Regions from separate parts of the Homo sapiens genome. Here all the other regions are linked to region 5. Evidence: fine-mapped expression QTL. A gene starts in region 5. Each other region holds a variant in brackets. All regions are shown on one strand. Distances are between the middles of the regions.

Evidence for each region. PIP is the estimated chance that this variant, and not a neighbour inherited with it, causes the effect.
Region 1: its variant is the best candidate, but not a certain one, in a credible set for the expression of SEC22B in whole blood (GTEx, PIP 0.70).
Region 2: its variant is the best candidate, but not a certain one, in a credible set for the expression of SEC22B in esophagus muscle (GTEx, PIP 0.70).
Region 3: its variant is the best candidate, but not a certain one, in a credible set for the expression of SEC22B in whole blood (TOPMed, PIP 0.56).
Region 4: its variant is the best candidate, but not a certain one, in a credible set for the expression of SEC22B in whole blood (Lepik 2017, PIP 0.66).

Annotation. Positions count from the first base shown.
Region 1 is chr1:120,977,130-120,982,236 of GRCh38, reverse strand. No RefSeq gene overlaps it. Among named protein-coding and RNA genes, the nearest start is that of RNVU1-4, 37 kb to the right of the region's middle. The variant C/T (reference allele first, on the strand shown) is at 2,974.
Region 2 is chr1:120,359,860-120,364,966 of GRCh38, reverse strand. No RefSeq gene overlaps it. Among named protein-coding and RNA genes, the nearest start is that of NBPF8, 53 kb to the left of the region's middle. RefSeq lists an enhancer at 4,201-4,762. The variant A/T (reference allele first, on the strand shown) is at 2,358.
Region 3 is chr1:120,151,207-120,156,313 of GRCh38, reverse strand. SEC22B (SEC22 homolog B, vesicle trafficking protein) reads left to right here. Exons shown (of 5, transcript NM_004892.6): 5 at 1-5,107. Among named protein-coding and RNA genes, the nearest start is that of SEC22B, 23 kb to the left of the region's middle. The variant C/T (reference allele first, on the strand shown) is at 1,979.
Region 4 is chr1:119,979,755-119,984,861 of GRCh38, reverse strand. All of the region lies in intron 5 of NOTCH2 (notch receptor 2), which reads left to right. Among named protein-coding and RNA genes, the nearest start is that of ADAM30, 86 kb to the right of the region's middle. The variant C/A (reference allele first, on the strand shown) is at 2,005.
Region 5 is chr1:120,174,330-120,179,436 of GRCh38, reverse strand. It overlaps SEC22B (SEC22 homolog B, vesicle trafficking protein), which reads left to right and starts at 2,917. Exons shown (of 5, transcript NM_004892.6): 1 at 2,917-3,130. The coding sequence starts at 3,056. RefSeq lists enhancers at 2,756-2,885, 2,664-3,229, 2,926-3,295, 3,230-3,795.

The DNA of each region.
Region 1 (5,107 bases), 800 kb before region 5:
ATCCAGAGATTTTACTTCTCCAGTGCTAGACAGGGTCTATGCCCATAACATCAGCAGGAAGCAGTTACAGAAGATGAACCTCCACCCTTCTGCAAGCCCCTTAAGATTAAGGAGGAGTATATAATCTCTGATGGGGAAATGAGGTAGGAGACCAGAAGGACCATTGAACAGAGCAGGATCTGGTCAAAACAGGGTGCAGTGAAGAAGCCTGCTGAAACCAGCAGATGATGATGAAAGTGACCTCTAGTTGCTCTCACTGCTTATGAGCATAAAGACACTACCACTGGGACCATGGCCAGTTTACAAATGTCATGGCAACACACCTTGGCAATGGCCTGGAAGTTACTTTATATGGTTCTGGAAACTCCCTGCCCCTTTTCCAGGAAGTTCTGAATAACCTACCTCTTAATTGGCATGTAATTAAAAGTGGGTCTAAATACAACTAGCTAGCAGCCCACAGGCACCAACTCTGGGCACATTGCCTATGGGTTAGCCCTGCTCTGCAAGTAGCAGCACCAGTTCAATAAAAGTTGCTTGCTTTCACCAGCGGCTTGCCCTTGAATTCTTTCCTTGGCAAAGCCAAGGAAACTACAGTCTGGGAGAAATTTCTCAGGCTACAAACCAGTTTTGAGGCTCGCCTGCCCTGCGTCACTATCATTGTTTCCTTGGGTTTCCCAGGAATGTACATGTGTGAGACTGCTGCCCTGCTTATAGATCTGTTTCCCTGCAGGAAACAGGAGTATCTTGCCTGGGGCTTCCAGAGTTGGAGATACATGTAGTTTCACTACTGAGTGCTAACATTTAATTTTGGAATCAAGTGATGCATTCAGACTGGCTGCTATCATTCTGTGGTATACATGTAGTGAACACATTTGTGACTGAGTTTCCTGCTTTTAGCTGGAGCAAGAAAGTTTTGTAATTGTGATTTGTACAAAAAAATCATAGGCAAGAGAATGTGTGTAAAATAAACTTTATTGTCAGAGGTTTCTAAAGGCTTATCCTTCAAGGAAAGTGGACATATGCTGAAGAGCTGATAAACAGTCTACAGCAGTGTTATTCTAACTTAATCTTGATTCCAAGTCCTTGCCATTTTCCTCTAGCTGCTGTTGACTCCAGTTATATATAGGTTGGGGGAAAGGGGATTATTTATGGATCTAGGCATCATTGTCTCTTGGGCAGTTATCACATTTGCAGACTGAAGGGATGTGATTTCTACAATCAAACTGTCCATTTGGAATACAAATCTGGAGTGGCTATAAAATTTGCTTTTCAGAGATGGAGCTTTCAGATTTGGACTTTCAATTGTTCTGTTGTTTTAGTTTTTCTCATCAACTGGGGAACTGTTTGTGACTAAGCTTTGTTAAAAGTAGAGAAGAACTTTCCATAGTTCCAACATTAGTTGCTACTTGAAACAAACAAAAACACACACGCACATACAACGAAACAATAATCTTTGGTGAGGTCTTGCTGATACCTAACTGAGGCTAGAGTGAGAGCTAAGTGGTGATACAGGCCAGGTGCAAACTGAGTGCAGCTAAGTGGATAATCTCTGGTAGTGAACTACAGTCTAGAAGAAGATAGTAATAATAGATTGAAAAGAAAGTCTCCTGAAATGAACTAGCTGGCCTGTGGTGTAGGACACAGGACCCCAGCCACCTTATGGTTCTAAAAGCCTTGCTCAAAGCCGCTGCAGATGAGTTAGCTAGGTCTCTACCACATCCATAATACTCCTCTGGAGAGAAATAAAGGTCTTTCACACCTCCCAGGAAGGGATTTGCTTAGCCTCAAATGTGCACATTCAGAAATAGCTTGTCATAAGAAAGAGAGGATAGTTTGCAGAGAAATAACCCTTCTAAGTCCACATCCTATTCCTTTTAAATAAGAGAGTGGTGCCAAGGGAAGAGCCCTAGAATGTCAAAGCCAACAGGGTGCTCAGATACCACCCAAGTACAGTTCCATCTTTGGCCATAAGGAGACAATGGTGTCAAGAGGCTAAGGCCATATGATCTGTAGGTGAAAAACCCAGGATGAGAATCAAGGCCTCAAACCTTTTCCACTACATCACAGATTTAGGAGCAGTTAGAGGGAAGGCTTCAATCTGGAGAACACTAACAGGTTTTAGAGATTATTGGGTCATGGTGGCTGGGACAGAAATAAGGATTCACAGAAAGATGTTTATAGTCAATGTTCTTTTACAGTAAATGTTCTTTTGGGATTTTCCTTGATAAAAAGGCTGAGCAAAAGTGAAAAAAAAATTTCTTTCTTTCTTACTTTCTTTCTTTGTCTTTTTCTTTCTTTCTTTGTTTTTTTTTTTTTTGAGACAGTTTTGCTCTTGTTGCCCAGGCTGGAGTGCAATGGTACAATCTTGGCTCACCACAACCTCCACCCCCAGGGTTCAAGCAATTCTCCTGCCTCATCCTCCCAAGTAGCTGTGATTACAGGCAGGTACCACCACGCACAGCTAATTTAAAAAAAAATTTTTTTTTTTTTTATTTTTAGTAGAGACAGGGTTCCTCCATGTTGGTCCGGCTGGTCTCAAACTCCCGACCTCAGGTGATCCTCCCAAGGTGCTGGGATTACAGGTGCGAGCCACCACGCCTGGCCAAAATTAAAAATTTTCTAATTGCAATTCTGAACAACTTATGGGTTGTGAAATCAATATAGTGGACTGCTTACTACTACAGGCTTTATTTAAATACTAGGAAGGGTGGATTACACATAATAAAAGATTTTTTAAAAACTGATCACAAAGAATTGTGTATTTCTCACTGCATCTTGTGGTCAGAAAAGTTTGAGAAACTGCTCCACATAGGCAAATTATAGGTTCAATCTATCCGTCTACCTCTTTTTCTCTTCTCTTTTTTTCCATGCTATGCAAACAAGACCATGGAGAGAGGAAGGCAAATTCCATCAATGGGTGGGGTTAAGCCTTTTCTATGAGGTAGCTGCACATTTGGGACACTCCTATGCTGG[C/T]GACTTGACATTCTAGTAGATAGATTGTCCTTTTCATCTTTAGCTACATGTTAAAATTACTTGGGAGCATTTTAAGACTACTAGTGTCTTCCACCCACCTGGAAGCATTTAAATCAGAATCTCTATGTGTAGAGTCCAGGCACTTGTGTTAGTTAAAACCTTACTAGGCTTTATAATATGACAGAATGGTTTAAAGCTACTGAGTAGACCTACCCTATTTCCCACCATTTTCTTTCTTTCTCTTTCACCATAGGCTTCTTTCCCATGAGAAAGTAAAGATTTTAGTCTCTCTTTTCACAGTCCGAAGTAAATCACTATCTTTCTCAACTGGACTTCCAAGGCAAAGATTTCTCTCCATTTACCTATCTGGATTTTTACAAAGTTGGCCTCTGGATTCCCTTTTCCCAAAGCTAATTCACCACAAACGCACCCCTCAAGTCAAGGAGCTGGGCTTTCATACACCTGCACCTGTCAATCATGGGTAAATACTTTGCAGGCAGGGTTGCATGTGGGATTGACATAAACTACCAGGTATTGCCAGCTCTGAGCCTCAGGCAAGCTTGTGACTAAGTGACTCCAGTAGTCTGAGGACAGTCCTTACTCAGAAGGGTCTTTGGAAGCAAAAGCAAACATAGGCATGAGAGGGTAAAAAAAAAAAATCCCATGTGATTTTGGCTTATACCTAACAGAACTTGTGCAAGAATGGATATTAAGGTGGGTATTGTACACAGCAGAGCTTAGTAAATACCAAGTCTGCAGTTTAAGGGATAGGCTGAAGAGATTTTGCAGGTTTGTAAACATTTTTGCCAATTTGAACATACTTTTGTTTGCGTTTGGTTTTTCTCCTCAGTGGTAAGAGCTAGGCACGATAAGGTAGCTAGTATATTATAATTTCAATCAATAAATTTTTATTTTGCCAAGGACCAAGATGAACTACGACGATTTCAATTATTTAGTACTTTATTTTCATAAGTTTGAAAATTAGGACTTTTGCTCTTTTTTGGCTCACGGCATCTTTTTGGATTTCACACTTTCTCAAAGGCCAGTAACTTAGAATCTAAATTATGATTGCTTATTCTTTCAGTATTCTAGGGGAAAGTTGATTTAATCTTGACAAAATGTATTCAATTAAAATAATTGTTCTCTTAAATCTTTTCTGTCTTTCTTTTCTTTTTTTTTTTCTTTTTTTTTTTGAGATGGAATCATGCTCTGTCACTCAGGCTAGAATGCAGTGGCGCAAATTTGGCTCGCTGCAACGTCTGCCTCCTGGGTTGAAATGATTCTCCTGCCTCAGCCTCCTGAGTAGCTGGGACTACAGGTGCATGCCACCACGCCCAGCTAAGTTTTGTATTTTTATTAGAGATGGGGTTTCACCCTGTTGTTCTGTTAAATCTTTTCACCTTTTAAGTTTGTCCTTCTCTTCTCCAATTTGCAAGAGTGGGGTGTGGCTCGCACCGAAATACTGTATTTCTTAGAGCTACTTATTCCTGGAGCCTGGCAGTCTGGGGGCCTGGAGGGGGTGTGTCTAGAAAGCAGCCCTCTCTAAGTTGAGAATAGCTATGAGAATTGTGGGTTATAAGGTTTTGAGCAGCTCTGGCCTCCCCGTCCTCTTTTATTTCTACAGTGGAGTGTGGCAAGAGAAGGGACCCATCTGAGAGTGACTTCATATTGTGGCCTTTCACCACTTACCTCTGGAAATTTGATTCAGGCAAGTCGGGAGAGTCTCCGGTATTCTTCTCTGAGAACTCTGTTTTCATTATACAGCTGGACAATGGAATCTATGATTTGCCTGTAGAGGTTAGAGGTGCATCCTGTTCCAGGAAATTATTACAATTTATGCAAGTTATACACGTTTGCTTAAGAGAATGCTTTCTGCACATTTCATGTTCTTCCTCTCTATCTTAGCCTAGGGAGAAAACCGTGGAGGGCTGGAACGTTAGTGTGATGGGGTGGAAGCTTAATTTTCACATGATTCTCAACAAATGCCAGCACATCACATGTATTATCATGTCCAATGGCTGCAATATGAAGGAGGCTTTTCCAAAATAGTTACGGCTTTGGTATGGGAAGGGACCTGCTTATGGTTCTTCTGGCCCAGCACAATGTTATGAAATGATGGCCTCTGTGTGAGAAC
Region 2 (5,107 bases), 190 kb before region 5:
AGCTCACTGCAGTTAAATCTTCAGTCTCCAGCACTGCACTTGGGAAAGCGTCAAGGAGTTGAATGTATATGTAATTGGAGTGCCAGAAGAAGAGAACCGAGAGAGAGGGGCAGAACAGCTCATGAGGGGAAAACCCACTACATACAATCAAGAATACTGCAGACTCCTCATCGGAATCTATGTAAGTAAGAAAAAAATGGCCAGGAACTATAGAGCTGTTCTTTAAAGTACTTAAAAACATTTTTGCCAACCTAGAAGTCTTTAACCAGCAAAAATGTCTTCCAAAAAGAAAAAGACTTTTCAGAACAAATACTGAGCTGATTCATTATTAGCACATTTGCACTACATAAGTGTTAAAGAAAATTTCTTTAGTAAAAGAAATATAATACCAGAAGGAAAATTTGATCTATAAAAAAAGAAATTAAGAGTCCCAGAAATATATAAAAATTATGTAAAAATTTTTTGTTTTTTCTCCTTAAAAGATAATTGATTATTTAAAGCAAAAACAATAAAGTGTTATAGGATTTGTGGCACATGTTAAATGTATGCATTTGAAGTAAAATGTATGATAACGGTAGTGCAAAGACAGAAGAGAAAAACTGACTTCTCCTGCTGTACATTCTTTATACTCTACATAGAGCTGTGATAAGTTAAAGATGTGTATTGTAAACTCTAGATGAAATAAAAATTTAAAAAATAAAAATAAAATTAAGAAGCAAGATGGAACAAGTAGAAAACAAATGGAAAGATGGTGGATTTGATTTTAGTTTTATCAATAATTATATAAATTCAAATAATCTAAACCCCCAGAATTTTTAAAAATGGGAGATAAAAAAACAATAAATATTATGTATTATTTGTTATCATCATTATTTTATAAAGGGACAGGGCATAGATTTGGACAGAAATGGTAAGTTTTACAATAAGAAATGTTACCAGAATTGCATAACATTTCATGATGTTAGAAGGGTCAATTCAACAAGAAGACACAACAATACCAAATATTGCCCAACAATAGATCTTTAAAATATACAAAGAAGAAATATACAACAGAAAAAAGAAATGGATATATCCCGTTATTGTTGGAGATTGTAGATTCTAACCCATTTTTTTCAGTAACTAATAGAATGAGATAAGAAACCAGCAAAAGGATAGAAGAAAAACAATACTCTTAATCAGATTTACCTGATTGACTTTTCTAAAACAGTCCACTAAACAGCAATATAAAAGACATTGTTAGCAACTGCACATTTAAAACATTCACTAAAATTGATGATAATCTGGGCTATATAAACATGTCTCAGTACATTAAAAAGAATAGAAATCATACACAGTATGATCTCTAAGCACAACTAAATGAAACTAGAAATAAATAATTTCCAAATGTTCTGAAATGAAACAACACACTTCTAAAAATTCCTGAGTCAAGGAGGAAGTCACAGATGAACTTAGAAAGTATTTCAAAGAGAACAAAGATGAAAACAAAAACAGAATATATCACAATTTGTAGGATGCACTTAAAGTAGCCATTTGGGGAAATGTGATAGTATTACATGCTTATATTACAATGGGAAAAATTCTGAAATTTGTAAATTTCAAATCATTCATGATATGTCAAGTCTTCTCAACTTGTTTTTCTTAAGGACTGTTTTGGCCTTTATTGTGTAGTTTATAAGTTCCACAAAATGTATTGGGAATTTATTGGAATTTTGTCAAACGTATATAATTTTGTCAAACTCAAGCATAATATAAATATGTTTGAGAATTAACATTATTATAAAAGTGAGACATTTAACCTATGAACATAGTACATATCACCCCTCATTTTGATGTTATTATTGTACAAAAGTTTTATATTATTGTATATAAAGACTTCGTACACTATTTTTAAATTTATTCTTAAATTTTACACTTTTCATGAAATATGAAGTTAATCTTATAAATTATTATTTTTAACATTATTGCTGGTGTAAAGAAATACAATTCCTTTGGACAATGAATTTTGTATCTAGTAAACTCATTGAATTTGTTTATTAATTTAATTCATGTACAAATTTTTGGATTTTCTATTTAAATAATCATATTGAATGAAACTACTGCATTTTAATAGTTTCTCATTATTACATTTACATATTTACTCATCTTATTCCTAAACTCAAAGATAATATAGTTCACTCTTTAGTATAAGTACATTATAGATTTAGTGTAGTACAGGTACATTATGAAGTGTAATGTTTACTAAAGCTTTTCTGTAAAATCTTTCTCAGGCTAAGAACATTTTTTGTTTTTACTAGAATATAATAGTAACAAAACATATTCTAGAAAAGCGTAAAATTTACCAAATATTTAGATTTTTA[A/T]TTTAAGCATCATGGAGAGAAATGACGCTCTCATGGTTGAAATGCAGAGGCTGGAGGCACAGATGTTCTTAGAGCTGCTATATTGTTTGAATCAACAGTGACGTATATAAGCAAAATTCCACAAAACCACAGATTTAACTGCCATTATTATTCAGAAGTATCTGGTGTTACTTCTGGTGTAACAAATGGACTATTGTTAGGATAAAGAATATCCATATGAAAAAGTGCTTTACATAAAGTAGAAACTTAAATAGTAACATAATCTGGGTACAATCCAACAATAATAATTAGAGCTTTGCTTTCCTGGAATACTATGTGCTAACCCTATTCTAAGGGATTTAGATAGAGATTTCACTGATTTCAAGAGAAACGTTTGTCTACTTGTTCAAATTTTAGTATCTGAAACTGCAATGTATCTTACATTAGATAAGCATAACTTAATTTCAGCATTATTTAATATTAGTGCATTAAAAAGTGTATGTCATTACCAATGGCATTTTAGATTTAGTGACATTTTGTATAATTTCATGAAACACTAGACACTATGGAATCAACTATAGTGTAAGGTCTACAAAAGCAGGAAATTCTATTTTAGTTACTCTTATAGGAGTCACTTGATAAATATATGTTGAATGAGTTGTCCAATGAAATAAATAAAGGCACAGCATTCTAGCATCATTCGGGGGGCAGTAGTTCATCCTGTGGCCTCATAACACTTGAGCAATGATGTGGACATCACTTGGAAATGCTCAATTTAATCAGGTATGTTCATAATGAGGGCTTCTCATTTTTCTGTGAAAATACTAAAATATACTGTCTTTAGGGAGGAAGCAAACAATGTAATAAAATATAGAAAAATAGTTAAGCATGATTCAAATTAAAAGCCCTGGAATTTATAAAAATAAGCTTCATTTGTTAGGGAAAAAATTACATTGTGTAACACTCTATTCCCCATGATTCCTAGTAAATAAGACAATAAACCCTTTAAGAAGAACTTTGTCAGAAACAAAGGATCACTATTTCCCGAAGAGCTGCAAAATACCATAGGCCAGAATTAATACAGGTGATAACTGAGGTCTTAAAAGCCATTTAGACAAGTTGAGTTGACAATGATCTAAGAAGGGCCAGGCCACTCTCCTGTGCCCCCTCCCTAAGCAGCTGCGCATTGCTTTGCTTTGACAACCTCCTTCCCATGCACCCCATCCCACACCCACAGCCCTGCTTGGAACTCTCCTAAGTTCCAGACTCACGTACTCAGCTGCCTCCTAGAGCCCTCTACCTGGAGACGTCCAGAACACTTTGAGTTCAGTATGCTCACAAGTGAAGTCATAAAGAGCCAAGAGTGCAGGATTGGGGTCAGGCAGCCCCACTTCTTAGTTATGCGTAGACTTCTTAGTTTACTTGACCCTCTTCATTTTCAGATTTCATTTCTGTAAAATAGCAATGGGCTTTGTAGAATTGCTTTTAGAGTATTGTAAGATAACTTAGGTAATACCTCTAACAAAGAGTCAAACAGATATTGGACATATAACCAATGTCTGGTACCGGCTTTCCCCTCCTTTCACAAGCTTAATGGCAATGCAGTTAAGTCAAGGACCTGGATCAGAATTACGGCATGAGGAACACACTCCATGTTTGTGCACACCCATTCCTGGATGACTTTTCAAGGGTCTTCTCTTTTCTTCCACCTGACAACAAGTTCTCCAACTTCCCTACTTGGAAGTGGCTGCCTGCCATGAGATAATCCCCTTTCTAATTTGTCCTCCCATGAACAATGCACCCAAGGAGTCCTTCCTCTTACTCCATGTCTCCTTGAGCCTGCAGAATGGAGCTCAAGTTTGCTAGAGCAGCCACGGTTCCCGCACCACCTCCCCTTCTGCCTTGCGGGCTGCCAAGCCTGCGTCCACCGTGCGCATGAACTCCAGCATCAGGAAGTTTCCTGCGTGTGCCCCGTGCTCCTATCTGGGCTCACGTGAACGTGCTCTTCTCTCTTTCTGAAATGCCCCTTTCCTTCGAGCGATTGTGGAAATCCTCCTCATCTTTTACAACTAGTCTCAGATGCACCCTCCTTCCCGAAGCCTCCTCCGAATGGCCTGTCTACACATGGCCCAAACTTGGTTTCAGATCATTAAAATAGAAGGACAAAAATGAATGGTGTGCAGGGAACACACAGACAGCCTGTGGCATGGTTGGAAGCTGTGGTCTGATCTATGGCGAGTCCTGAGACCACGACTGTTCTTTGATTTTTGCTGCAGCCCTGAGAACCCTGTGGGTCTGCTCAGGCATCTTGCTGCTCTTGCGATCGAGCCCTTTGTTTCTCTGCCTATCTTGTTTCCTGCTTTTCACTTTCTTGTTCTCACCTGGCTGATTTGTAAATAATAAAGTAACCGAAGTTAGACAATTCCAGCTACTTAAGATAACTGTGTTTCCAGGGAATCTGTTTCATGTGTAGAGAGGAAAAAATAAGTAGTCACAATCCTGGATTTTCTATGTGAATCAGTTTGCTTAGAGAGCAGCAGCTGTTAAAATATACATGTGATATTTGAGTTCAAACGGGAGCAGAAATTATACTTAGTGTGGGCCAAAGAAAGGCATTTCAACGACAGGGCTCTTTCATCTGGAGTGGCGTGCCTAATTCTGATTTAGAGAAAAGCAGGTCTGATCTTGTGCGGTGGAAAAGGAGGCCTGGGGCTGGGCATCAGAAAATCAGCTTTCAGACACTTCCTCCAGGTTGTAGCTGAGAAACTTGA
Region 3 (5,107 bases), 23 kb after region 5:
AATTAGTTTGGGTCATTATTACTTTTATTTTGCAGCATTTGGTTTGTTATTAGCGTAAGAGCAAGTATAGGATATGGAGAGGCCCCTGGCTTCATGAGAACAAAGGCAGGCCCAGGTTATAATTACAGCTTTCTCCTGCCCCTTCTTTACTTTCTCTACCACAGTTTTCTCCACTGTTTGTTTTCCTCTTGCCACAATTTGCTAACATTTAAAAAATTTTCCTGCACCCAGTAGTTTCATATCCTGTAGACATCCTCTTAGGACATTCTCAAATTTCAAAATAAAAAATATTCATCTATGTAGTTAATTAAAGTTAAAGTTTTTGCAGATCAACTACTCAAACTACTAAATACATTTACCTGAGAAAAAGTCTCTGAGAGCACTTCATTCCTGTTTTAGTTCGTGTAAATTCTCTGAGAATGTTCTGGAGATAGATAACTCATTTACAGTGGTTTCTATTAACTAATTAAAGTACCCATGATTTTTTCCTTTTCTGCTCAGGGATGATGGAGATTTCCTTTTACCTTCTGAGGTAGAATTTTTTAATGGGGAAAATAGGCCTTTTAAATATTATTGCCAGGGTCTGCAATATAACTTAAAATTCCTGTACATACTGCAAATATTTCTTTAAATTGCACAGGAAAATGAGCGAACTTTTTATTTCTTAATATCTTTGGCAAAAAACTTTAACCAGTAAGCAATTTTATAACCCTGAGGGATCATCAAAGATACTATCCTGATTCCTGGTAAGGAAAAATATATTATTTCCTTATAACAAGGCAAGGAGAAATGCTATTTTATTCCTGATAATTTATATAACTAGAATAATTTTTTTCCTTTCTTTTATGGACCTAAATCTGCCAATTGGGAATTTTGTGCATGAAATATGAAGTTACTTTTTATAGATAATCAGTGCTTTTAAGTCCCTAAAAGGCTCCTGCTGAAGTAATGATGATGTTAATAATAAAAGCCTTTGAAAGGCTGAAAACCTACATAGTGGTACCATAGTATTTGGAGCTTCTATAGGAGTGGAGAGGGGCAGCTCATTGTTGAGAGTTGCATGCTGCAACCTAATGGTCAGCAATGAAATAAATACTTGTAGAATGTTCACTTCAGTGTGAAGTTTTGTTATCTAGTTAATTTATATACATATATCCTTTGTAGATACATTTCTATCTAATCTTGTTGGGCTAATTAAGAAATAAGGGGTGGGGTAATTGTCAACAAAGGGAGAAGAAAGTGGTTTAAGATCAGGGCAGCAGAAAAATTAGAGAACAAGAATATCATAATATGGCTCCTGGTTTTCTTTATAAGAGGCAGTGGGAAGATCTGACTAGATGAAATGTATCATCAACCAAACTGGCATCTAAAATAGAATGGGATAAATACTGTATGGGGTTATTGGAGGCATATTAAGAAAGGACACCTAATTTATTTTGGGAAGAAGTATGTTAAGAGAAGACTTTCTAGAGAAGGAGAATGGGGCATTCTAGGAAGAGTCAATGGCATGTGCAAAGGCATGAATAAAGACAGTGAGGCATATTTTGGAAATGTAACAGCTTGATTCAGCTTAGCCCATAGGGTAAGCATAGACAACAGAGGAGACTTGAGGAATGAGAACTAGATGGGTACACTATCATAAAGGGACTTGTCTATCATGCTGAGGAGTTTAGACCATCTTAATGGTAGTGGCCAAGGATGGCATCAGATTTATAGTTTCAAGTGATCATAATATTGGCATAAAAGATATATTAGGGAGGAAGCCTGAAGTAGGGAGATGAAAATAAGGAGCCATCAAAGGCAGAATGAAACTTAGGCAGATTTCAAGTGATTTTCAAAAATGTTGTGATCAGAGGTACCAGATAATAACTATTACATAACACTTTCTTTGTTAGGAGCTTATTTCTCACACTGACCAAAGCTTTTGAAGTAAGTACTCTTTACACCACTATATAAATAAACCTTACAAAGGATTCTG[C/T]TTTGAGGCATGAGAGAGTTAAGTCATTTGCCCAAAGTCACAGAGTTAGAAAGTAATAGAGCTAAGATTTGAACCTAGGCAGTTTGGCTCCAGAGTCTGTGCTCTTACGCTATATTACCACCAAGAGGTCAAATAAATACCAAAGAATGTATTTTCGAATTTAACAATGAGGAACTTAATCATACAGGCAGAAGTAATTCCAGAGCACTGGAGACAGAAGCCAGATTGCCATATGGGTTAAAGAGTGTGTAAACCACTAGGAAGTAAAGACATAGAACTACTCTCACAAGTGCTTTTCTGGTTATTGTGACGCTGAACTTCATGGCTTGTTTTAATTAAGACATCTTACAAGTGTCAAAATTTGGAAATATTTGGACACTGTACACTCTGGTTATTTAAATATCTAACAATGGTTCTTGAGCATTTTGAGAAACCTTTGAAAATCTGATGAAAGGTATGTGCCATTACTCTAGAAAAATGTTCCTGTGTACATGCACATCAAGTATCACATACTGTTTCAGGCTGTTCAAAGACTACAAAGTCTGTTCATGACCTAATGGTCCATGTTCCCTCAGTTAAGAGCTCCAGAGATAAAGGATGTGGAACTCAAAGGTAAGTACCCAGAGCCTTGAAAACTCCATCTGTGACTTGGAAGAATTCTACAATTTGAATTAACTTTGTGGAGAGAGATATATTTTTGAAAAATTGTGTGTACCAAAAAAATTTCATATCAAATAATATTTTCCTGTAGTGCATTCAAGGATCTGGTTCCACAGCAAAAAATTGTTTTGGTCTCAGTTCCTCAAAATCACATTTAAGGAGCTTGAGATTTATATTTTCTACTTAATAAGTCTTACAAAAGCAAGTTAAGAAGGAAAATGGACAATCATTTCTGCACATATAGGGTTTAATAAAACATGTATAATAAAATATCTCATATTTTAAATTTCCACCTTATTGGTAGCTTTCATGACAAAGGGCTAGGGTGCTGATGGCCATACAATTAAGGTTTTTGGTTAGTTAGTTAGCAGAACTAACTGACTCCTACCTGGTGGGTTTTTCTTTTGTTTGGTTGGTTGGTTGGTTGGTTTTTTCCCAGATGGCTCAGGAGGAAGGTAAATAGCAGTCATTGTATGTGTGACAGAGTTTGAGATAGAATGAGCATATTGAATCTCACATCCTATTCTTATTACTGTCAGGCAGCGTTGACCTAGCAGTATAAAACTATCTGAAGCAATGTAGTCACTCAGTTCTCATAAAGTTTATTTCAAGTACTGTAACAATTCATGTTTGGATTAGAAAAGTCACTAGAAATTTGACTTCCATATAGTAATCTATACTTTTTTCTCTCATTTCCTTCATTTTTTGAGCCGTAAGTGTAAGGCATTTTGCTGGTATTATTACAATGGTTATGAGGAGTTTCTTTGCTTGCCCAAGGTCACATAGCTAGCAAGTTAAAGTAGATTCAAATCCAGGCCTGCTAGATACCAAATTATTATTTAAGAGTACTTTTCACTACTCCTAAATAATGACACAGATACGTTTGTCTTACACATTTCACTTTATTGTCAAGTTATTAGTATGTTTATTTTCAAAAGTTATTTTTTGCAATTTCTTTTTATTATTCCGTACTTTTTAAATTTACTTCATTATCACGTCTTCCTTTATTCTTTTTAAATAGTTTTTGCTTTTGTTATTTTGTTTTCCCTTTTTTACTCTTGGTTTGTAATACCTCTTTCCTTATTTGCTCCTTTCTCATTTGATCTCAATGTTAATCCAACTGTTTTCCACATCTGATTCACTAAAATTTTAGCCCTTAAAAAAAAAATTCCTGTTTTTCCTATCTCCTTTTGTCCATTCTCTTCTCCTTGCCTCACTTCTTTTATCTTTTTCCATTTTACTTTCATTTTTTGTTTCTCTAGATGTTGTTTTGACATATGAGTTAATGTACTGGTACAATTTTGCATCTGTAAATTAGAGCTTCAGAATCAACTGAGTGTATTTATTCTTTATTTTTAGGCCTAAATTTATCTTACCTTTTATTGATTTTATAATATACTATACTCTTTCATTTTAGTCTGCATATGTTAGCCAAAGAAGATATGCCCCTGTTTTAAGAAATCTCTGTAAAAAATGTCAAGTGTGACAAGAATTCTTCAAGAAACAAGCTCCTCTAGTTTGTCTTCTATATTTAGAGCTTCAACAGTTACCTATATTACTGGTAACTCCCAAATATACCTTCAAACTTGTTTTTTGGGCCCAAGTTTTTTGCTTCATATATATCTGTTTTGAATATCCCATAAATAATTGCATCTAAAGCATACCTCCACTCCATTGTTCTCAAAGATAAAACCAAACCTGTGCTGCTTCTTATATTTCTAGTATTTAAGCGTCACCTGCCACCCCTTTACCTGAGCTACAAGTCACGCATTGCATTAGACTCCTCTGCTTTCTTCTTTCACCTCTAACTAGACTATTAACCAAAAATTTTTTAATATAACTTTCAAAAGGTATTTTATTACATCATTTCCATCCTTTATGTTTGGGTTCAAGCCCTCATTAACTTTAACATGGATTCTTGGAGTACCCTCCTTACTGATTTTGTTACACATGTCCCTCTTTTAGTCAGTACTACCATGATAATACCATGGATAATAATTTTTTCATTTTTATTTTTAGTCTTGCTCTGTCGCCGAGGCTAGAGTGCAGTGGCGCGATCTCAGCTCACTGCAACCTCCACCTCCCGGGTTCAAGTGATTCTCCTGCCTCAGCCTACTGAGTAGCTGGGATTACAGGCACCTGCCACAGCTCCTGGCTAATTTTTGTATTTTTAGTAGAGATGGAGTTTCACCGTCTTGAACTCCTGACCTCATGATCCACCCTCCTCGGCCTCCCAAAGTGCTGGGATTACAGGCATGGGCCACTGCGCCCGGCCAATAATTTTTGTGTGTGTGTGTGCTAATCATACTACATTTTCTTTAGAATAAAAGATCACATACTTGTTTGCCATTCGCAGTCTGGCCCCATTGTGCCATTCTAGACTTACCTCCTGCCACTCCCCACCAGCTTTGTTTTGTCTTAGCCACACAAAATAATCTAGCGTCTCTAACCAGTCAAACATTTTACCTT
Region 4 (5,107 bases), 190 kb after region 5:
TGTTCTACTCTGGACTCCCTTAGTACCCCATGTATTCTCCTGTAATAACACTTACCACGTTTGTATTGATATTATTATATGCTTGATGTGAGGGATGTACCGAGTTATGGGGGCGGTTGGACTATTGATGACAGCAGTTACTAGCACTCCTTACAGACCTTTGTTCTCAGTAGCATGTAGCTGAGCTATTTACCATCCCAGCCCCTATCCTATTGTAAAGAGAAAAACAGAAGGAAAATTTTGTGTCATAGGGCTTCTGTTTCTACTGATATTAGATGTATAAATTCAGATTAGTCTTTTCTGTGTTACACAAATTAAAGAAGTGAATGGAGCAGGAATCTAGTAGGAGTTAACTAATGTTTATTAGCATCCAAATACTGTGCTAATTACAATGTTTTATCTGTGTAATCTTTGCAATAACTGTATTAGAGATAGAGTTTAAATATCCTTTTTTCAGATGATGATGCGTATTCAAAAGGGTTAAATAATTTGCCCAAGACCCGTAGTGGTTGGGTTAGGGTTTGAATCTAGGCTTGTTGAACTCCAAATCTTTGCTCAAATCTGTAGTCTTTTTTCTATATAAAATTGATTTTGTAAATTATCTTGTTTTATTTTAAGAACTTGGGGTGTTTTTTAATAGACTGAAAATTTCATTATCCTGAGATTTGGTGATTTACTCCATGTGTTTTCCCTTTTTAAGAACCTAGCTGGTTATTTTGAGGTTAGAAGTTAACATTATGTGTATGCTTTAGATTCAGTCTGATGCTTTTTCACTATACCTAATAGCCTATTGCAACTTTGTTCAGAATTCCTTTTACAATTTCCACCTGTAGACTTGAAGCATTAACTATTTGGTCTGGCTTTTGACAAAATGAAAAAGGAGGGGTTGGAGTAGTGAGGTGAGAAAATGAAGGAAATGAAGTTGCCAGCTATTTGAAAAAGAATGGATAAGACTATATGGCTGAAAAAAGATAGGCATTAATTTTAAATAAATGGAGATTTGGAAATTTGCCATGCTTTTAATGAGAAGAACCTGATAGTTACGGCTTTGTTTTGTAACTACATATACATAAAAGGCTTGGTGTTTTGTAGCAAGTTCTACACTTCAAGATGAGCATAAATTCCAGCTCTATTCATGGTTTGATTTAGGGTAAATTTGTCAGCCTCCTTTTCTCAGAAGCCTTCATTTGCTATTATCTCTTTCTTGGGATATTGAAACAATCAAAAATGCAATAAAAAGTTTATTTTTTCATTTGTTCTGCCAACAGCTATTATGCTAAACATTCTAAATTCATCCTATTCTATATGGTGGCCCCTGGTTTCATCTTGCTATTGAGCATCTGAAATATGGCTAATGTGAATTGAGATGTGTTGTAATTGTCAAATAACTGATTTTGAAGACTTAGTATGGCCGGGCACAGTGGCTCATGCCTCTAATCCCAGCACTTTGGGAAACTGAGATGAATGGATCTCTTGGGCCCAGGAGTTTGAGAACAGCCTGCGTAACATGGCAAAACCCTGTCTCTACAAAAAATACAAAATTAGCTGGGTGTGGTGGCGTGCACCTGTAGTCCTGGTCACTTGGGAGGCTAATCACGCCACTGCACATTCCACCCTAGGGGACAGAGTGAGACCAAGAACCTGTCTCAAAAAAAAAAAAAGAACTTCATATGGAAAAAAAGATATCTTTTTAATAATGTTTAAATATTGATTAGATGCTGAAATAATACATTTTGGTACATTGAATTAAATATAACATAATATTAAAATTAATTTCCCCTATTCCTTTTTACCATTAAATATTTTAGTAGCCACTGGAAAATTTGAAATTATATCTGTTACTCTCATTATATTTCAGTTGGACAGCATTACTTCAGATGCAAAGATGGTCTGTAGGTATTACCATTGCTGCTGCTTTGTAGAAGCATCTGTTCTAGCCCTGAAGTAGAGGAATAGATGGTTTCCCCATGGCCTGTGGGCAGAACTGTGTTATATACCCCACTA[C/A]AGGCGTTTTTACCTACTGTGGCTGTCTAATTAGTGTTTGTTTGTGCCTTCAAAAACTACCACTCTTGTGGACTAGCTTAAGCTCAGATGGAAAAAAGAAATTGGTCTTAGGGAGTGGGTGTGGGGAGATGATTTACTTCTTTATAGGGAAGTGTCTTATAGGGATAAGCCTGAATACTGGATATTCCTTTAGGAAATAGAAGTAGACCTGATGGTTGGATGAAGATAGAGCACAAACGTCTTTATTATACTGTATTTGGCCTCAGGCCATCTTATCAGAGAAGTTCTGCTCTGGCAGATATCCATTTAAGGAAAAAAGGGTTTTAAAGGGCCCAAAATTTATTAGAGCAGTGTAGATTAATGTTTTGTCTACATAGACTGTTATTTGAATTTTCTTTTTAAAGGTTCATTTCCTTCAGAATTAAAGTTGACCCTAAGCTCAACTCACAAATTCCTCTCTGTGGCTGCTTTTGACTTTGGGCTCACTTCTGGGGCAGATGTGATTTATTTTCTTGTGCTTGTTATTAATCCAGAAATATAATTTCAGCATGGGCTTGGAATAGTGCTCTGGGACATGAAGCAGAAGTGAACAATGGAAGTTAGGTGGATATGAGTCAAAGAAAACTGACCACACTTTCTCTCAGCTCTCCTTTACAGCATGATGAGCCTCAAGAGCTGGGGGAGGTTTTCATTGCTGTCAGTGCTCCCAATTCAGTAAAAATGTTTGATGTGAGTTGGCAAGTACATTTGCCAGAGGTGGTGCATGAGCTCCTTGTGTCTGGGAATGGAGATTTTCATGATGGTGCTTTTATTTTGAGCTAGATCTTCCTGTCTCAGTCTAGCCTCTAGCTGGTGATGAATTATTCTCTAGAGTAAGGCTTTTCTCACAACCATTTTTCTACTTTTTTTTTTTTAGGACTATAGGGATGGAGGTTTTTTGATTGAGAGAGAATACTACTTAATTATATATGGTATTTCAAAGCTGCTCTCTTTTATATTCTACATGGAGGAATGGGAAAATATGTCTCACATTTCAATTTTTCTGCTGTAAGCCTGATTGTGAGAAGTATAATAAGCCTGTTTTCTGAATTCTACCTCCTCACCCCAAATTCGGTTTCCTATCAGTTGGGCAGACTGCCACAGTGCTAACCTGAAGCACCCTTGCCCCAGATGTCCCAGAGTTGATTAGTGGCGCTGTTGGTGGAAACAAGGACGAGTGGATAGTCTAGCCCCACATGCAGGAGGTGAGACTGCAGGCAGGATCTTTCCTGCCCTGCAGTCCATGACTCAGGGTGTAGCCTTGGCTATGTTACAGGCACGATCCAGTTTAACTTCATGGCTCTCTAAGCCCCCATGGAACGGTTGTTAGTAGGTTCAATAATTTATCTATTGGACCTACTTACAGATATTTATTGAACAACTACTACATGGAATATATTATGCTAGATACTGTAAGAGACACAAAGAAAAAATTCCTATTTTAAGAGTGGTAAAATTGACTAGGAAGACATAAGAAAGTCCACACATAACCACACTAGGAAGCAGAAGGTGTGTGTGAATGTGAATTTGAAAGAAACAATGGTGGGAATGGGGAAGCATCTAAGTACTTGGTGGGGTAAGGAAGGTGATCGAGAAGAGTGAACTTCTGTTTTGAGTCTGAGTAATGGATGGGAACTGTTGACAGAGAAGGAGAAATAGGGTAGAAATGATGGTAAGTTGGAGATGAGTTTTCCAAGTGAAAAACATGCAGCAGTAAGACCCAGGAGCTCAGAATACAGGCAGGGACGAGAGACTCAGGGTTACCATGGAATGTGTCAAGTCTGTGAGGGAAATTGGATGGAGTGATAAGAACAGAGGATTTGGACCCGAAGTATGAGAAACATCCACACTTCAGAAAATTGACGAGGAAGGGGATCCAAAGAAGGAAAGTGAGAAAAGGGGAGGTTTGAGAGGTGGGAAGAGAGCTCGGCCATGATAGCATCCTCAAGTTAAAGGGTACAGCCTTAGAAGCTTGCCCTGAACTCAACTCCACATGCCTTGGTGGCAGCTCCTGTAATATTTTACTTCTCTTACTGCGTTATTTGTTCAGCTTGCCTAAGAGACTATCAGCCTCTGGAAGGCAGGAAACTGCTCTTACTTATTTTGACATTCCCAGAACTGATTTTAACAAACCATGGTTATTAATAACTGACAACCAGGAGACTCAAATATAAATGATAACTGCAAAATATTCATTAGAATATTTGAGTCATTAGAAATTTTCTGAAATACAGTTTTAATACAGACAAGACTAAGAAGCTAGATTGAGGAAGTTAAAGGAAAAAGTAGGCTTTGGGGAGAAGGAAGGGGCAAAATGGGTTTAGATCACTATGTAAGATTTTGCACAACTGAAAAGGAAGAGCGAGGGAGACACAACGCAGGGTTATGGGAGACAGAAACTTTATTCATCTCATTGACCATAGAGCTTGGCTACACTAAGAGTAAGGCAGCTCAAAGGGCGTTGGCTAATGAAGTGGATTATTGGGAGGGGTTTACTCTTACAGTTTTTAGTGGGGAATACTTTAGGTAAGATGTCTGCTGGGAATGGGAAAGGAAGAAGATGGGAAAGTTATAGTCAGAGAGTGGAAGTACCAAGTTTGAGATCTTGGACTAGAACAATGAGTGTCTTGTAACAGAGGTGTAGAATGTGAGCGTGCTTGTGATATGGAATGGATGCGGAGGTCTGTAAGGTTGAGAAAAGTAAGAACTCTTGACTCAGATGACCTTACTGGTCCTCAACCCAGATGTTGATATCATGCGAGACAGGAGAGGAAAGAGCGAGAACATAAGCCACATGCTTGTCATTCTAGGAAGAGGAAATTGGTCCACGAGAACGACAGACCATGGTGTGATAATTTATATTATACTATGTCTTTTTTTTAATTTTTAAAGGACTTCAATTCATCTATCTACTTTTAATGTCAGAAATTAGAATGTATTTATTGATTTCTTTCTCTCGAAGATGAGGAATTAGCATACTTCTCATAGCTTTCACTCACTCACTAGACTTTGTATAAATAATCTGGGTTTCAATATTTATATTATTGTTATCAAATTTATAAAC
Region 5 (5,107 bases):
ATTTTAAAGTTCGGTACAAATGTTTGTTGATACTCTTGTTTAATTAAATGTAAAATAGTTGAGAACCTTCCATGTACTTACTGATCACAGTGTTAACCATTATTACACAGTACTGTATTGCTCCAAGAATCAAAGGGCAGCAGCTCAAAGACAACACTTGGATGTGAATGAGATGAAGCTGATCAAGTCAGAAGGAAAAGGAATTCAGATGCCAGAGCTCCCAAGGTCTGAATAGTGGGCAGTTTCAAGACAACTCTAGTTTTCTCCTGATGGCTGAAATTATTAGCAGCCTAAGATCACTATCCTTTTCCTGGAATCAATGTGTTCGAAGGGTGCCAGAGTCATCTAGTGTGTTTACAAAGGATAAAAGTAAGAGGTGTGAGTATGAATGTTGTTGTTCCAAGAAATAATTGCTCCAGGGTGACTCCATGCTTTTATTAGTTTGCGTGTGTGTGTGTGTGTGTGTGTGTGTGTGTGTTTTGGTTTTTAAGTAACAAACTAACTCAAAGTAGCCTAAGCAGGATAAAGAGGGAATTTGTTATAAAGAAGCAATAGTGTTTGATAGAACCCAATGGCAGGAATGTGTATGGGCCTTGGGAGGAGCCTAGAGTCAGGAACTGAAAAAAGATGTGGATTCTTGCTCCGAATTTGCTTCTCGGCACACACCTGCATTCTTCTCTCTCTGCTTCTCTAATCAACATGGCAGTCTGTATCCTTAGTTAAAATATTTGTAGCATTAATTCCCCATTACTCAAATGACCATCATTTGAGGCTGTGGAGAAGGCATGTCCTTGTTGAGTGGAAGGAAGGGAAATTAGAACAACTTATATCTATGGGCTATTTTAAATGTAAGGTACTATGATTCTACCAACTTAGACTCCCATATACACAAGGATTCACTTCCATTCCACTTTCTGTCTCTGTTAATAGCACAATTTTTTTTGTCTTATTTATTGTAGTCCTTCATCTTTCATGTGGAGTCAATCACTAGGTCTTATTGGGTTTTGGTCTCAAAAGTCTATCATTAAATAATATTACTTTTCTTAGCAGCATAATTCACAATTGCAAAGATGTGGAACCAACCTAAGTGCCTGTCAACTAATGAGTGGATAAAGAAAATGTGATACACACACACACACACACACACACACACACCATGGAATACTACCCAGCCATAAAAAGGAGTGAAATAATGTCTTTTGCAGTAACTTGGATGGAGCTGGAGGCCATTATTCTAAGTGAAGTAACTCAGGAGTGGAAAACCAAAAACCGTATGTTCTCACTTAAGTGTGAGCTAAGCTATGAGTACACAAAGGTATACAGAGTGATATAATGGACTTTAGAGACTTAGAAGGCGGAGGGTGGGAAGGGACCTAGGGTTAAAAAACTACTTATTAAGTAAAATGTACGCAACTCAGGTGATGGGTGCACTAAAATCTCAGCTTTCACCACTATATAATTCATCTATGTAACAAAAACCCACTTGTAACCCAAAAGCTATTGAAATAAGAATCTTTTTAATAAAGAAAATGCCACACAAAAATAATATTGGTTTTCTTCTAATCCTGAAGGCCAATATAAAAGGTAACAAAAGCCTGAGCTCTTTAATTAATGGGTACAAGTTAAGACAGAATCACATCAGGATTTGAAGTTGAACCTGAGCTCAAATCCTGTTCCCATCACTGCTAGCTCTCTGAGGCTTTCCTCTCAACTACAAAGTGGAGATATAATACTAAACAAGCTTACTGGGTTGCTTAACTAATATCTAGAACATACTTAACAGTGTTTCTATTAATGCGAGAACTAACTGTAAGCACTTAGTAAAGAGTAGTCATTATTAAGCAATGATAAATAAAAGCATTTGTATAATTCTTTTTTTAGCTTTTGAAAGCCTTGCACCTAGATTTTCTCATCTAATATTCATTAAAACCCTGAAAGGCCGATCATATCCCCACTTTAGAGATGGGGACACCAAAAAACAAAGAGATGGGAACACCTAGATATATCAGAGATCCTAGTTTTTATTTTATTTATTTATTTATTTATTTTTTTTTTTTGAGACAGAGTGTCGCTCTGTTGCCCAAGCTGGAGTACAGTGACGCAACCTCGGTTCACTGCAAGCTCCGCCTCCCGGGTTCACGCCATTCTGCCTCAGCCTCCCGAGTGAGTAGCTGGGACCACAGGCGTCCGCCACCGCGCCCGGCTAATTTTTTTGTGTTTTTTTAGTAGAGACGGGGTTTCACCATGTTAGCCAGGATGGTCTCGATCTCCTGACCTCGTGATCCGCCCGCCTCGGCCTCCCATAGTGCTTGGATTACAGGCGTGAGCCACCGCGCCCGGCCTGATCCTAGCTTTTTGTAGGTGACTGACCTAGGTGGTACAAGATGTCCTGTACTTGTTCATTTATTCACACATACAACACATATTTATTGACTTCTTACCATAAACTGTTTAAGGAGCCTGGTGGGGATACCGCATAAACAAACAAGCAAAAATAGACAAAAATCTTTGTCTAGAAATATATAAATATAGAACATTTTATAGAATATATGACATAGAAAACAGAAAAAAATAAATATGAAAATAGCCTAATTTTCAGGGTTTTCCTTTTTTTACATACCCTTCATGGTTAACGGTTAGTGGTTAATGGGGATTACCCATTAACTCCCACCCTCCTTCCCAGCTCTCTCCCAAGACTTAGTTTCAGGAACTAGAAAATTCTGATTCAGCTTGGGTGCAATGGCCGCTCAAAGGGCGAGGCTTATTCGAAGCCTCAAATTCAGAAAACCCAGCCAGACCTTGGAAGTTAAGAAGGTGGAAGGCAGATCGCGGAACCAGTGTTCTGATAGTTGTGGTTCTCTGAGGGAAGCCAATTCTGGGGACCGGTAGTGGAAAGCTCTTGCGCTGTTTCCGGCCACCTCAGCGGGAAGCGGAGACGCAAGCAGCTGGATCTCCGGTAACTGAGACATAGGGTATAACTGTTGTCGCGGCGGAGGAAGTGAGGACGGCGCCAAGGGCCTTCCGGGCCAGTGTTGGATCCCTGTAGTTTGTGAAGATGGTGTTGCTAACAATGATCGCCCGAGTGGCGGACGGGCTCCCGCTGGCCGCCTCGATGCAGGAGGACGAACAGGTGAGCTGCTTACTCACGACCCGCGACCCCAAGTCTCTGTCAGCGCGCTTTGCCCTCAGCATCGGATTCCTTCCTAGGACCGGGAGACCTTTGTGACTTCCCGGGCACTCCCGACCTCTCTGAAGTGCGCTTTTATCTTTTGGTGTAGGAGAGACTACCGGCGAAGAGGAAATCTTTCCTGAAGGAGGAGTTAAGTTTTTTGTGTTAGCTGTTTCTCTTTAGAAAAACGCTCTGGAGAAGTGGTAGCTTTGGTTGATTGTGATCACCCAGTGTTCTTTGACTCTTTAGGGACTTTGTTAAAATTCAGGATTTCTAATTTTCTGCTGCTAATAGGACTGCTGATGGATAAATCCTGGGAAAAAATCAGCCAAGTTCTTCAAGTCTATAACGTGGCACCTGATCCTTGACCTAGCTTGCTGACATCTTTTGAAAGTGGGTGAGGTAATATTGCCACATAAAAGCACCTGTTAAATTTCAGTACATCACATTCTTTCAGGATTATCCCCAGTTCCCACCTTCTCCAATACGCCGTACCACATTCCTGCAATACATTGTAACTTATTTTTTTCTTTGTCTTTCAATAACTTGAGTTTCCTAGCGGGCAAACGACGGGTCTTAATCATCTCTTTGTTATCCATACCTTTTACAATAGCTGCTTTATGCTAGTAGGTGCTCAAAAGTATACTGAATTGATTAAAAACAGCACTAACTCCAGATGTCTTAAAAGAAAGATGTTTTGTGTTTTAGAAACACAGTGGAAATTTCTGAAGTAAGACAAGTTTCTGGAGCAAGCTTGGGAGGTTCTGAAGACAAAGCTGAGAATGGAATTTATATAATTTGTTTAAAGTGATCAATTTTATTTTACTTTTCCATACAGTCTAAGTAAAACCTTGAGCCTTAAAAAAAGATGAGATATTGAAAAAATAGTTTGCACATTTCTTCTGTTGGACTTTTCATTCATATATTAATGCAAAAAATTTTTACTGAGCACATCAAATGTGCCAGGCATAGTGTTAATGCAGGGAGTTAGAGTACACAGTCTCTACCTTTGTGGAGCTTACAGTCTAGTGGAAAAATCAGATAACCAACAAACTATTAAAATGTAGTTTAACTGCTAAGGAGAAGGAAGAGGGTTTTGTGCTTGAACATGGAAAATATATCTAAGTTGGTTTTAGGAAATCAGGAAAGTCTTCCCAGAAGGTATGACACTAAGGTAACAGTAGGATCCAGTAGTAAGGAACTATTATTCTATTTGGTTATATGCCTTTTTAGGTTTGATTTGGAAATATAGTTACTTTCACTTTTAGGAGAGTGGTGATACAGATAATAAAGTTGCAGGTCATGCTAAGTGAAATATATTCTATTCATTACATAAAAACAAAGTCTAATCTTTGAAATAAACCGTGAACAATTTAACATACCCCGATTTGCTAATGTGAAATGTTTTTCAGGAATACTCTAGGACCATCCTGCAGAAGGAGTGTAATTGTTCAAATGAACCTAGGAATATGATTTGAACAAAGTAGATAGTGCAGGGGAATATCCTTGAAGGATGTGTAGTTTGACTAAAAAATAGTTTTCCTACAGTGGGTGGCTGTGTGTTGGGGGTAGGGGGGATGGAATCTGGTCAATTTTTAAATTATTGCATTGAATTCCAGTGTTAGCAAAGAATACAAAGTGAACTTGAAAGTCTACTTAATATTAGTGGCCCCTACTCTCTGCCATGATACTTTATTGAAAAATTAATTGATTTATTGTTTTTTAATTATAAATTTGGTATTGGTTTCATATTGGTTTATCAAGATGGGATGCTTTGTTTAATTGACAAGGAAAGAAATTTTACACACAAATATTTTTGTGATTGTAGTGCCATAGTATTTTCCTTTAGGAATTTTGACTTTGAATAATAAAGTTTGCCTAAACTTTTAATGTCTGTAAAGATCTGAATCTTAGGCTTACTTTTACTATTTTAATAGT